Regions from separate parts of the Homo sapiens genome. Here region 1 is linked to region 2. The links come from fine-mapping of genetic effects on gene expression. A gene starts in region 2. The other region holds a variant in brackets. All regions are shown on one strand. Distances are between the middles of the regions. Region 1 has its middle 24 kb from the start of CLEC6A. Region 2 holds the start of CLEC6A (C-type lectin domain containing 6A).

Evidence for each region. PIP is the estimated chance that this variant, and not a neighbour inherited with it, causes the effect. A credible set is the group of variants that fine-mapping cannot tell apart.
Region 1: its variant is the best candidate, but not a certain one, in a credible set for the expression of CLEC6A in whole blood (TOPMed, PIP 0.83).

The regions. Positions count from the first base shown.
Region 1 is chr12:8,478,993-8,481,917 of GRCh38, forward strand. No RefSeq gene overlaps it. Among named protein-coding and RNA genes, the nearest start is that of CLEC6A, 24 kb to the left of the region's middle. The variant A/G (reference allele first, on the strand shown) is at 1,245.
Region 2 is chr12:8,454,136-8,457,060 of GRCh38, forward strand. It overlaps CLEC6A (C-type lectin domain containing 6A), which reads left to right and starts at 1,827. Exons shown (of 6, transcript NM_001007033.2): 1 at 1,827-2,007. The coding sequence starts at 1,977.

The DNA.
Region 1 (2,925 bases), 25 kb after region 2:
TATTTTTGACCATTTTTATTCCACATGTGCTCTTAATAAGTAGCATATAGTTAAATTTTAAAAAATCCAATATGGCAATCACCTTTTAGGTTAAAAATTTAATCCATTTACATTTGTGACAATTCGACATATATATGGTTCTAAATCTATCATCTTACTAGGTGGTTTCCATTTCCTCTGCTCCAAAATATTTTTTTTACAGCTTATAACACAACTTTTATTAGAAAAGTTATACATAACACAGCATCAACTATTTTCAAGAACCCAATAAGCAACAAAAACCAGACTAACAAAATGTGTAACAAGAAACTAATGACCTTTCTAAAATCAAACATTCAATTATCTACAATGTCTATTTACAAACAGGGAAAACTCCATGGTTTACAGGCATGTCATATTGAAAATAAAGCTGCAATAGCTTTTTATACAATTATCGCTCTCAAGAAAATGAATCATTAAGACAGTAATTAGGAGTTCACAAATTTAAAACATTTCACGTAATTTTAAATTATTGTCTTCAATAATTTTAAATTATTGAAGTCTGAGTTTCAAAAGTGATTTTTTTCCCACAAAGGTGCCAACACTTAAGCTAGAGCTTTCAGTGTTAACTTTGCCCTAAAAGTTAAGACATATTCTGAGAATCATAATAGTCACATGATTTCTGATGCTATCTGCTCTGTTAATAACAAAGATTTCACACATGAATACCTATGTAACAAATCTCCATGTTCTACACATATACCCCAGAACTTAAAGTATAATAATAATAAAACATAGCAAAGCCTTTATCTGGATGTGTTTTTCTTTAATTAAATTATAGGAAGCTGGATATAGGATTTTGTTGCAAATCTGTTAAAGTTCCAAACACAGGAGTGTGCAGCACTGGAAAAGGAGATCAGTACTAAAACTTAAAATAAATATCAGAGAAACCATTAGCTTTTACAGCATTGTCTGTTTAAAGGTTAAGTTGACCAGGTGTATAATTTCCCATCAGTCTCTTCTTACAGTAGGCAGGGCAATTTCTATTTTCATGATCTGAATACTCAAATATATCCAAACATCTTTTTAAAGCTTTGATTTATAGCTCCTAGAAAGTTATAATTTTTAATAGTCACTCTACTCTAATGAAGCCTATTTCTGCTCATCACACTTATCACTGCTTTGAATGTGTCCCAGAGATTCCGGTATGTTGTGTCTTTGTTCTCATTGGTTTCAAAGAACATCTTTATTTCTGCCTTCATTTC[A/G]TTTTGTACCCAGTATTCATTCAGGAGCAGGTTGTTCAGTTTCCATGTAGTTGAGCGGTTTTGAGTGAGTTTCTTAACCCTGAGTTCTAGTTTGATTGCACTGTGGTCTGAGAGACAGTTTGTTATAATTTCTGTTATTTTACATTTGCTGAGGAGAGCTTTACTTCCAACTATGTGGTCAATTTTGGAATAGGTGTGGTGTGGTGCTGAAAAAAATGTATATTCTGTTGATTTGGGGTGGAGAGTTCTGTAGATGTCTATTAGGTCTGCTTGGCGCAGAGCTGAGTTCAATTCCTGGATATCCTTGTTAACTTTCTGTCTCGTTGATCTGTCTAATGTTGACAGTTGGGTGTTAAAGTCTCCCATTATTATTATGTGGGAGTCTAAGTCTCTTTGTAGGTCTCTAAGGACTTGCTTTATGAATCTGGGTGCTCCTGTATTGGGTGCATATATATTTAGGATACTTAGCTCTTCTTGTTGAACTGATCCCTTTGCCACTATGCGATGGCCTTCTTTGTCTCTTTTAATCTTTGTTGGTTTTAAGTCTGTTTCATCAGAGACTAGGATTGCAACCCCTGCTTTTTTTTTTTTTTTTTGCTTTCCTTTTGTCTGGTAGATCTTCCTCCATCCCCTTATTTTGAGCCAATATGTGTCTCTGCACATGAGATGGGTCTCCTGAATAGAGCACACTGATGGGTCTTGACTCTATATACAATTTGCCAGTCTGTGTGTTTTAACAGGGGAATTTAGCCCATTTACATTTAAGGTTAATATTGTTAATGTGTGAATTTGATCCTGTCATTATGATGTTAGATGGTTATTTTGCCCGTTAGTTGATGAAGTTTCTTCCTAGCCTTGATGGTCTTTACAATTTGTCATGTTTTTGCGGTGCCTGGTACTGGTTGTTCCTTTCCATGTTTAGTGCTTCCTTCAGGTGCTCTAATAAGGCAGGCCTGGTGGTGACAAAATCTCTCAGCATTTGTTTGTCTGTAAAGGATTTTATTTCTCCTTCACTTATGAAGTTTAGTTTGGCTGGATTTGAAATTCTGGGTTGAAAATTGTTTTCTGTAAGAATTTTGAATATGGGCCCCCACTCTCTTCTAGCTTATTGGGTTTCTGCTGAGATCCACTGTTAGTCTGATGGGCTTCCCTTTATGGGTAACCCAACCTTTCTCTCTGGCTGCCCTTAACATTTTTTCCTTCGTTTCAACCTTGGTGAATCTGACAATTATGTGTCTTGGGATTGCTCTTCTCAAGGAGTATCTTTGTGGTGTTCTCTGTATTTCCTGAATTTGAATGTTGGCCTGGCTTGCTAGGTTGGGGAAGTTCTCCTGGATAATATCCTGAAGAGTGTTTTCCAACTTGGTTCCATTCTCCCCGTCACTTTTGGGTACACCAATTAAATGTAGATTTGGTCTTTTCACATAGTCTCATATTTCTTGGAGGCTTTGTTCCTTTCTTTTTACTCTTTTTTCTCTAAACTTCTCCTCTTACTTTATTTCATTAATTTGATCTTCAATCACTGATACCCTTTCTTCCACTTGATCAAATCGGCTATTGAAGCTTGTGCATGCTTACGTAGTTTTTGTGTCATGGTTTTCAGCTCCACCAGGTCATATAAGGTCTTCTTTACACTGTTCTAGTTAACCATTTTTCTTATCTTTTTTCAAAGTTTTTAGCT
Region 2 (2,925 bases):
ATTAGCTCCTTTACGATACTTGTAAAAGGATTTAGAAGCAGATTTTACTCTTCCTGTTAAAATACCTTCCTGTATTTCATTTCCTTTTGGAATCGTGAAGATACTCTCTTCTTTGTCTTTTCACTATCATCCTAAAGGAAGTAGCTGAAGCCACATTAATATAGAGAGTTTATTTGGGCAAAGGATGAGGACAGCTACCCAGGAAAACACTTGTAGGTTGCCTTGGGAAGTGGTCTAGAGAGCAAAGGAAAGACTGAAGATTTTAAAGAAAAAAGAATGAATCTGAAAAATCATGGAACCATCCCAAATGCTCATCAATCAATGAGTGGATAAAGAAACTGTGGTATAGATATACAATGGACCACTACTCAGTCATAAGAAGCAATGTATTAATAGCACTTGCACTGACCTGGATGAGATTGGAGACTATTATCCTAAGTGAAGTAACTCAGGAATGGAAAACCAAACATCATATGTTCTCAATGATATGGGGAGCTAAGCTACGATGACACAAAATGTATAAGAATGGTACAATGGACTTTGGGGACTTGGGGGGAAGAGTGGGAGGGGGATGAGGGATAAAATATTACAAATATGGTGCAGGGTATGCTGCTTGGGTGATGGGTGCACAAAAATCTCACAAATCACCACTAAAAACCTTACTCATGTAACCAAATACCACCTGTACCTCAATAACTTATGGAAAAATAAAAATTAAAAAAAGAATGAATCAGGAGAGGGAGTGAATTAAAAAGTTACTCATCAGTAAATTATCATTGGTTTACAGAAACCACATTGATTAGTAATTAGCTGTATACTGTTAAATTTTAGGGTTCAGTTAGTCTAGAACCTACATAGCAAATGGCTTCAAGAGGTAAATTTCGTGCAAGGTGGCAGTGAGGCATGACTCCTGTCATATCTCTCTCATGAGTCCACTCTGGACTTGATAGTTTCAAGGCACTCACATTCCTCAAATAACAGTTTTTTTTTTTTTTCGTTCTCAGCACTCCATAGATTTATGGCTGTTTGTTAACATACTATTTAAGCAAGGCCTGTAAGCCACTGCCATGAAAGAGATAAATACATTTGAACTGAGTTCTCTCCTGAGTGATGGGTATAACACACATTGATAAACTGCTGCTTTTTCTCTTGTTTCTCTGCCTTTTGTTTTCAGGACAGTGTCTCTACTAAGAATCTATGAGGACAAGAAAACATCATATATTTTCTGTGCTACAATATAAAATTCATGAAGCCTGTTTCTGATTTTATATCACTTCAGGCTCCCTTTTGCCTAATCAGGGAGATTACAAAATATCACTGACATCTGCCCAATATTAGTCTGGATGCAGTAAGAATGTTTCATCACCTTTGCAGACTGATTTCAGAATGTTTCATTTTGCAGTCACATTCCTTAACAATGTTCATGGGTTTTGTTATTTACTATGTTACCCTTCATATCTAAACCATATCCATCCAATCAAACTTTTGCTTACTACCTAGGACACTGTTCAACACATGGATTAAGGCTTGCATAAAATAAGCAGCCAATGTAAAGGTTAGTTAGGGAGCACTTAATTTAACCAAGTTCTCTAAATAGATGTCTTTTAGGAGATAAAAAATTTTCTATTTTGCATGCCAGAATGAATAGGAATCAGACAGAGAAATTTTATGTTAGAAACTGAAGAAATGATCTAAGTATTCTTGTCAAAGTTCTCATGAATGGTTTTCAATGTTTCTCAATTCCTCTTTTGTTTTTTTTAACCCCACGTATCGAAATCACTGGAAACTTTAGTTGTAATTGTGACTTCTTCTTTTGAGGTACACTTAATGTTGGAAGTCTCTTAGTCCTATAAGAGTGTGTAGCAGTTTGTCCCTGAGCTCTAGCTTCTTTAAATGAAGCTGAGTCTCTGGGCAACATCTTTAGGGAGAGAGGTACAAAAGGTTCCTGGACCTTCTCAACACAGGGAGCCTGCATAATGATGCAAGAGCAGCAACCTCAAAGTACAGGTGAGTATTTCCTCAGTTTCAGAGGAAAGTGGAAGTGTATGGTGAAATGAGATCACCTGGAGAGAAGAAGTAGCCAAAGAACAGATTGAAGAGCTAGTGATTGGACCAATATAGTAGACTCAAAGGAATTTGAAAGAAAGAGTAATTCTTCAGAGCCAGAGCCATAAGCACTTGAAAGAATAAGAAAGCAAATATTTTTTGGGAGGTTTGTACCAGATTTTATTGATAGTTTAGGGAGACAGAAAAGATTTACATGATAGAAGGTAAACAGGGAAATAACTGATTATTGGATGTCTGCTCTTCAAAGTCTTTTGACTAATTTTGAAATCCAGGAAGCAGTACTCTTTCCAATTACCCTAAGTTTTTTTGTACTTGCTTTTCTAATTTTTTTGTAAGAGAAAAGCTTCCCATTTTTAATGCATGAAAATTTGACTTTAGCTTCAACCCTTTGCATGTCCATCAATAATGTTTTAAAAAAATTTTTATTAAAATTTTTTATGGATACAAAATAGTTGTGCATGTTTATGGGCTCCATGTCATATTTTGACACAAGAATATGATGCGTAATGGTAAAGTCTGGAAAATTACATTATCCATCACCTCAAATATTTATCATGTCTTTGTGTTTGGAACATTCCAAATCTACTCTTCTAGCTATTTTGACATATGCAATAAATTATTGTTGGGTTAGGCTCAGTGGCTCACACCTGTAATCTCAGCACTTTGGGAGGCTGAGGTGGGTGGATCACTTGAGGTCAGGAGTTAGAGACCAGCCTGGCCAACATGGTGAAATCCCGTCTCTAATAAAAAGACAAAACTTAGCTGGGCATGGTGGCATGCACCTGTAATCCTAGCCACTCAGGAGGCTGAGGCAGGAGAATCACTTGAACCCAGGAGGTGGAGGTTGCAGGGTGCCAA